2 linked regions of the Homo sapiens genome follow. Changing the gene in region 2 together with the main gene of any one other region gives a genetic interaction. Each region holds a gene or a part of one and is shown on either strand. Other genes may lie near its edges. The genes, in order: CDK1 and CKAP5.

Region 1 (3,500 bases), on a different chromosome or scaffold from region 2:
TCCTCCTGCCATGTCCCTCTAGTACCCTCTACCTTAACAACATAGCAGCTGGTAAAGAAAAAATACTTAAAGGCTTCAGTTCCATTTTCACATAGCATGCAATGAATTTGGAGCTGAGAGGCAATAAATTGATACTGCCACAGAGTAGATATCTTTTATTGAGTTATTTCTTGACTTTCACAAATACAGAAAATAATCTAGCAATCACACACATTCAAAAGCCATCAAAAACCACTATTCCACTTGCCTCATGTGTATATACTCTGATAGGTATTCCAAAAGCTCTGGCAAGGCCAAAATCAGCCAGTTTAATTGTTCCTTTGTCATCAATCAAGAGATTTTGAGGTTTTAAGTCTCTGTGAAGAACTCTTCTAGAGTGACAAAACACAATCCCCTGTAGGATTTGGTATAAATAACTCTGGAAAAAGCAAGTAAAAGTTAGAAACTTAAGCGAAGTACATGATTTTCTAAATAATCTGTTTCAAAGACAAAAAATTAGGACGCAGAGAAATAATTTAATTACTAGAGCTTTCAGGCCATTTTAGGCTAATAAGCATTTGTGGGTGGGAAGCCCATTTATATACAACATCACATTTGTATACCTAAGAAAAGAATCTTCACCTTATAGACATATCTATAGTAATGTGAACACATTTAGTCTTTAAACATTTTTGGTCCCCGATCCTTAAATTACAAATTGGTTTTCTACACAGAAGCCTCTTGATTTTTCTTCTATATACCGCTACCAACTCTATTTTGTATCTTCAATACAGTTGGCCTTTTCTATCTTTCATTTTTACATATTCATTTCCTTCTTGAAAAAATTAGATTCTAAAAGTGATGGCAAAGATATTATGATTATATATTTCAATGGATAAAATTATCATAAAATGCTGCTTAGTTCAGAGAAAAGTGCTTTACAAGACATTTGTTGCCAAAGACAATGTCATTGACATCTGAAGTAGCATGGATATTACAAAAACAAAGTACACAGAAAAATGACTTACAGTTTGAAATTGGAAAGTAATACAGATGCTCCATCTTAGAGGGACAAGTGGTGTTCAAAAAACAAAACAAAACGGATGATCCATCTGGTTAAACTCATTCTAAGCTGAAAATACCTTGTCGAAATGCATTGAACACACCTAACCTACCAAACGTAGCTAAGCGTAGCCCACCTTAATTGTGCTCAAAACACTTACATTAGCATATAGTTGGAAGTGTTGAATACCTCATTATTTATTGAATACTGTACTGAAAGTGAAAAAACAGAATGGTTGTATGGGTAAATGAAGTATGGTTTCTAGTGAATGTGCATCATTTCTGCTTCATTGTAAAACTGAAAAATTGTAAGTAAAACCATTGTTGCCTGTACATAAAACCAGTTAGAACAACTGGCTAGCCATTTGGAAAAAGATAAAGCAGAATCTGTATCCCAGTTTTTAAGTCAAAATAAATCTTAATACAGAATTTAAGACAAAAAAAGTATGTGTGGAAGACAGGACTTACTAAAACTACCAGAAAAATACTGACATGTATTATTCTAATACATTCGATCTTTGAGTGAGGAAGACTTAAGCAAGACATAAAAGCAGAAAGTCCAAAAGTCATGCAAGATTGTTAAAGAACGTATCCTAACGAAAATATAGGCGGTTTATAATAGCTAAATATGAAGTGTTAAATTGTCATGAAATATAAAATTAAAACAATCTTAATATGCCTTTTTCACATAGTTAACAGATTGATAAAACCAAGTTTTGGCAATGATGTACTAAAACAATAAGTATTACACACCATGAGTATTTAAGAGTAAATTGCTACAAGTTTTTTAGGGGGCAACCGGCAATATCTATCAAAATGTAAATAAACATCTTCAATCCATCATTCCCATTCTAAAAATTTATCCTATAAAGTTGCATACGAAGATAAATATCTATAAGGACATTCAGTGCAGTACTGTTAATAAGAGCAACAATAACCAAGTTGGAAAATAATTTAAATGTTCATCAATATGGAAGTGGTTTAATTATATCAAAAATGTAAATAGACATAGGTAGATCTACGTCTTGATAATGTTTTACACAAAAAAGGGAAAATATGTATATATACATATGCAAATAAGTCCACCTTGTGTAAAAAAAAAAATCTTTATATACATACAAAGTGAACATACATACAAGTGTAAGATTACAAATAAAACTAACAGCGCTACCTCTGCAGAGTGGTTTGGTAGAACTGGTGCAAGAATAAGACACTTTTATATACTTCAGTACTTAAAACTATACAATTTTATAATTTACCTGAAATATAATAAATGTCTACAATAAATTGACCAAAACATGTTCAAAACTGGAATAAAACACCTACAACCACCACTCTGCCCTAGGCTTTCATTACTTTGTTTTACATGTATCTGACAGCCAAAGAAAGACCAGACTACCCTAGCTTCCAACAATACCTACCAGTTCTATGTTATCTCAGGCACTAATTTTTACTTACTAGAAACACTATCTGGTAATAACATGGGTATCTCTAACCTGTATAAACTAACCATGAGGGAGAAAAATGAAATACTTTTTCTTATTCTAACACTTTTTCCAAGCATATTCCCACAAAATGCAGGGACTTCTATATATAGTCCCTTTATATCCACAGTGCATAAATATTAATAAAATTAGTTAAGCTTTTACCTTAACAAGTGAAGAATCCATGTACTGACCAGGAGGGATAGAATCCAAGTATTTCTTCAGATCCATGGAAAGAAACTCAAAGATGAGATATAACCTGGAATCCTGCATAAGCACATCCTGAAGACTGGGGAAAAAAAATATATGAGAGAAGAATCCAGCAAACATTTTTGACCTCTGTTTCACAAAATAAAACTCCTTCCATAATTTCAGTTGCTATAATAAAAACTGGGGAAGACGTAGTAGCTTCCCTAATGGAAGAGACTCAAAACTCAAATTTAAGAAAGGAATCTCAGGGCAACTATTTAAAATTAAGCCTTGTACAGGAGGTGCTTATTTATAAGGAGCCTGTATTCAAAAGAACATATCTAGGTTGGCTACTAATTGCTGAGAGCTTATTTTTTCACTGAAGTGAATTATACAAATAAATTTTAAAGTGGTATCTGACCTTAAAAGCTACTTCCAATCTCTAGCCCCAGCCAAGTACAATTAGATTTTAACTTGGACTGTTAGGAAGACAGGTCTCCAAAAACACCCAATGCAAATACTTTAAGGAAAAAAAATCTTTTTCATTTGACCTAGCTACTTTTCTTAAGACTCTAACTAAAGGGTCTTCAGGAACTAGAGCTCCCCAAGTAGGAGAGAGTTGACAAAGCTCTATGAAAACGGCTTTACTCCCATGGCCAATTTACCTTGCTATTCTAGGCCCAAATATTAATCTACATCACCCAGCTCCTCCAACTCTGTTCCTGCTTTAACAGCCTGTTCTCTTTTACATATGTGCGGCATTCTCAACTACCAAAAATAGGGTTC
Region 2 (4,032 bases):
AGGACAGTCTATTCAACAAATGGTGCTGGGAAAACTGAATATCCACATGCAAAAAGAATGAAGTTGGACACCGTATATAAAAATAAAGTCAAAATAAAGACATAAATGTAAGACCTAAAACTATAAAATCTTTAGAACAAAATAGAGGGCAAAAGCATCATAAGCCTGGGGGCAGTGGCTCAGGTTTGTGATCCCAGGAATTTGGGAGGCGGAGGCAGGAGGATTCATTGAGCCTAGGAGTTTGAGACCTGCCTGGGCAACACAGTGAAACCCGTCTCTACAAAAATATTAAAAAATAAAAAATCAGCTGTGTGTGGTGGCACGTGCTTCTGGTCCCAGCTACTCAAAAGGCTGAGGTGGGAGGATTGCTTGAGCCTGGGAGGTATGCTGTGATTGTGCCATTGCACTCCAGCCTGGGGAACAGAGTGAGACCTTGCCTCAAAACAACCCAATTCAAAAATGGGCAAAGAACTTGAGTAGATATTTTTTTCCAAGAAGAACTATACAACTACAGATTGCCACCTGCACATGAAAAGATGCTCAAGGCCAGGCTTGGTGGCTCATGCCTGTAACCTCAGCACTTTGGGAGGCCAAGGCAGGAGGATCACTTGAGGCCAGGAGTTCAAGACTAGCTTGGGCAACACAGCGAGGCCCTCTATAAAAAATTTTTAAAAATAAGCTGGGTATGGTGGCAAGTCCCTGTCATCCTAGCTACTTGGGAGGCTGAGTGAGGAGGATCACTTGAGCCTGGGAGTTCCAGGTTGCAGTGAGCTATAATCGCACCACTGCCCTCCAGCTTGGACAACAGAGCAAGACCTTGTCTCTAAAAAATATAGAAAATAAAAACAAAGTAGTCAAATTCATAGAAACAGAAAGAAGGGGCTGGAAGAAGCTGAGAATGGGAGGATAGTTAATTGATTCATAGAGTTTCAGTGTTAAAACATGAAAAGCATTACGGCAATGGATTGTGGTGATGCTGCACAACATTATAAACATACTTAATATTAATGAACTGCACATTAAAAAGTTAAGACAGACCAGGCACGGTGGCTCACGCCTGTAATCTCAGCACTTTGGGAGGTCAAGGCGGGTGGATCACCTGAGGTCAGGAGTTCAAGACCAACCTGGCCAACATGGCAAATTCCCATCTCTACTAAAAATACAAAAATTAGCCTGGCATGGTGGCACGTGCCTGTAATTCCAGCTACTGGGGGGCTAAGGCAGGAGGATCACTTGAACCTGGGAGGCGGAGGTTGCAGTGAGCCAAGATTGCATCACTGCACTCCAGCCTGGGCAACAGAGCGAGACTCCATCTCAAAAAAAAAAAAAGTTAAGATAGTAAATTTTATGTTAAATTGACAAAACACACTTCTGTGCCTTCATCACCATTTTTATCTCTATTAAAGCTCCAAACAGCTGAATTTATTGCTGGAATATCCTATCTTCATTAACAGATTTTCTGCTGTATTTTTAATGTGGCCAATGAATTCATTTCTCAAACAAAATAATTTTAGAGGAACAACCACGAACCTGAGACTCAGACCCTTCCTTACTAACTTCTATTTTTAAATAATCTATTAACCTTAGCAGCAGGTGCCTTTTTTAGAGGTCCTGGTTTGGGTGCAGAAATGTCCTTTGTGTCCTTATCTCCTGCAGCCCCTGAAGCAGCAGTCCTTCCAGGCAGAGGTTTGAATTCCTTCTTATCAGCAGCTAGTCCAGCTTTCTTACCATGTATCAGTTCTACCTTTTCTGAACATTCTTTGATCTGGAGAATGAAAGTGAGATGAACATCATTAAGCCCAACTTTGAAACACAACCACTACGTTATTACATTTCTAAACCACAACTACACATAAGAATTCAGAGAAATGGCCAGGCAAGGTGGCTCACACCTATAATCCTAGCACTTTGGAAGGCCGAGATGGGTGGATCACTTGAGGTCAGAGGTTTGAGACCAGCCTGGCCAACATGGTGAAACCCCATCTCTACTAAAAATAAAAAAGTTTAGCCGGGCGTGGTGGCAGGCGCCTGTAATCCCAGCTACTTGGGAGGCTGAGGCACGAAAATCATTTGAACTCAGAAGGCAGAGGTTGCAGTAAGCTGAGATTGTGCCACTGCACTCCAGCCTGGGTGACAGAGTGAGATTCATTGCCAAAAAAAAAAAAAAAAAAAAAAAATTTTCAGAGAAAAAATTTCCCTTTCAACAAAAAAGATAAATTATCTACACTTTTTTGGCAGTAGATAGACATACGTAAGATATTAATCTTACATTTTATTTCTTTACAAATTAGAATTGTAATAAACTTAAAATGACCACATTGTTTATGGAAGACATTCACATATAAGAAGGTAATTTTCTGGACCTTAGAAATAAATTTATCTCACAGAACTGTTTTCACCTTCTCTACAGATTGGTCACTCAGCTTTTTTTCGGTTATAATTTGAAAGCTATTTCTACAATTATCACCATCATAGCCTGGAATGAAACTTAAATTCTCAAAAGCTAAGTTTTCAAACTCGGTCTGAACTATCAGTGGAGGATGAAATAAATTTCCTGAGGTGATATCAGCATTTTTTTCTTAATAAAACAACAGACAAAATTGAAGACAAAAAGTACCAGAGAGCATCCTCCAAAACTTGTTTCAATTATGCATTTCTTTCCTACTATAAATGGCAATTTAAAAAAAATCAAGAACTCCTCATCAAAACTACCAGTACTCTATAACTGTCAAGAGACAAAGCCATGATGCAAAGAGACAGGAATGTTGTCCAATTTCAGTCCAATCCATTACTAACCTACCTTATCAAGCTTGAGTTTGTCCACATCAGCTAGGAATGGGTTTACTGCTTTCTCGCCAACCACCTTCAAAGCAGTACCCAATGCTTCAAATGCGGCATCTCTGACTTCAGGAGCAGAATCATTGATGTGCTATAGTCCAGAAGTAAGCAAAATGATATTAATGCAAGGTATTTTAGGCATTACTCATTTTAATTCAGACTGATGGTTGCTAGATAAAGAATTTGCTTTTTACAATTTACTGGAACTAAGTATAGCTTTCCTTGTGCCAATTGACAGTTACTCTTTCAAAAATTCTTTTTGGGCCAGGCACAGTGGTTCATGCCTGTAATCCCAGCACTTTGGGAGGCCAAGTTCGAGACCAGTCTGGCAAACATGGTGAAACCCCATCTCTACTAAAATACAAAAACTAGCCGGGCGTGGTGGCACATGCCTATAATCCCAGCTACTCAGGAGGCTGAGGCAGGAGAATTGCTTGAGCCTAGGAGGCAGAGGCTGCAGTGAGCCAAGATTGTGTCACTGCACTCCAGCCTGGGCAACAGAGCTAAACTCCATCTCAAACAAAACAAAAACAACAACAACAAAAAAAAAAAAACAAAAATTTTTCGGGTTAAGGAAACCCTTGGTAATCCATTTAGCAAATAAGTATTTCCTTTTCCTCTTACCCTCTATCTAAAATAACTCACTCCCAAATGATCTTCAAATACTCCACATTTGATGCCTATGCTTGGCCAGATTCAGCTGAACACCAGTATATGGGACAAGTAAGAAACAACATGTTTAACAGTTAATGGAATCATAACACTAACTTGTGCTTTCTTTCAAGAAGAGGAACACAGGAGAATTTGGATTCAGTTTCCAAGCTGCAAAGGCTCTGCTCCTCAAAAGATCATAACCTCTATAGTCTGAAAGTCAAGTAGTCACTGTACATAATTTGCAGGAAAAGAATCTTGCCTAGGTATAAAATATTCCCCCAACTTCAAAGAGAGTCTGTACCTTAAGTAGTGCAGCACAAAAGGGCTTTAGCAAGCTCTTTGGCAGGGTAGAAGCAGTGCAGTGGCGGAAACTTCTTGCAATAAAAAGAGATGTCTGCTGCTTGATGGTTGGATTTTTATTATCCATTACTGCTAAAACATCCTCACTGATGTTCTGTAGTGTGGTCTTTAGAAAGAAAATGTGGTTAATGAGCTTTTTTCAATTGTAAAGAACAATCAAAATATTATATTTACAAACTT

What was found.
Region 1: changes in CKAP5 (region 2) and CDK1 together harm fitness less than expected from each alone (positive genetic interaction), as found in Homo sapiens cells (one large-scale study listed by BioGRID).

The regions. Positions count from the first base shown.
Region 1 is NC_000010.11:60,784,978-60,788,477, reverse strand, and holds part of CDK1 (cyclin-dependent kinase 1), read right to left. Parts: intron 2,815-3,500; coding exon 2,691-2,814; coding exon of another isoform or gene 2,679-2,690; exon of another isoform or gene 1,409-2,678; intron 419-1,408; coding exon 248-418; intron 1-247. UniProt on the Homo sapiens protein: Plays a key role in the control of the eukaryotic cell cycle by modulating the centrosome cycle as well as mitotic onset; promotes G2-M transition via association with multiple interphase cyclins.
Region 2 is NC_000011.10:46,794,012-46,798,043, forward strand, and holds part of CKAP5 (cytoskeleton-associated protein 5), read right to left. Parts: intron 3,959-4,032; coding exon 3,794-3,958; intron 2,930-3,793; coding exon 2,801-2,929; intron 1,766-2,800; coding exon 1,583-1,765; intron 1-1,582. UniProt on the Homo sapiens protein: Binds to the plus end of microtubules and regulates microtubule dynamics and microtubule organization. Acts as a processive microtubule polymerase. Promotes cytoplasmic microtubule nucleation and elongation. Plays a major role in organizing spindle poles.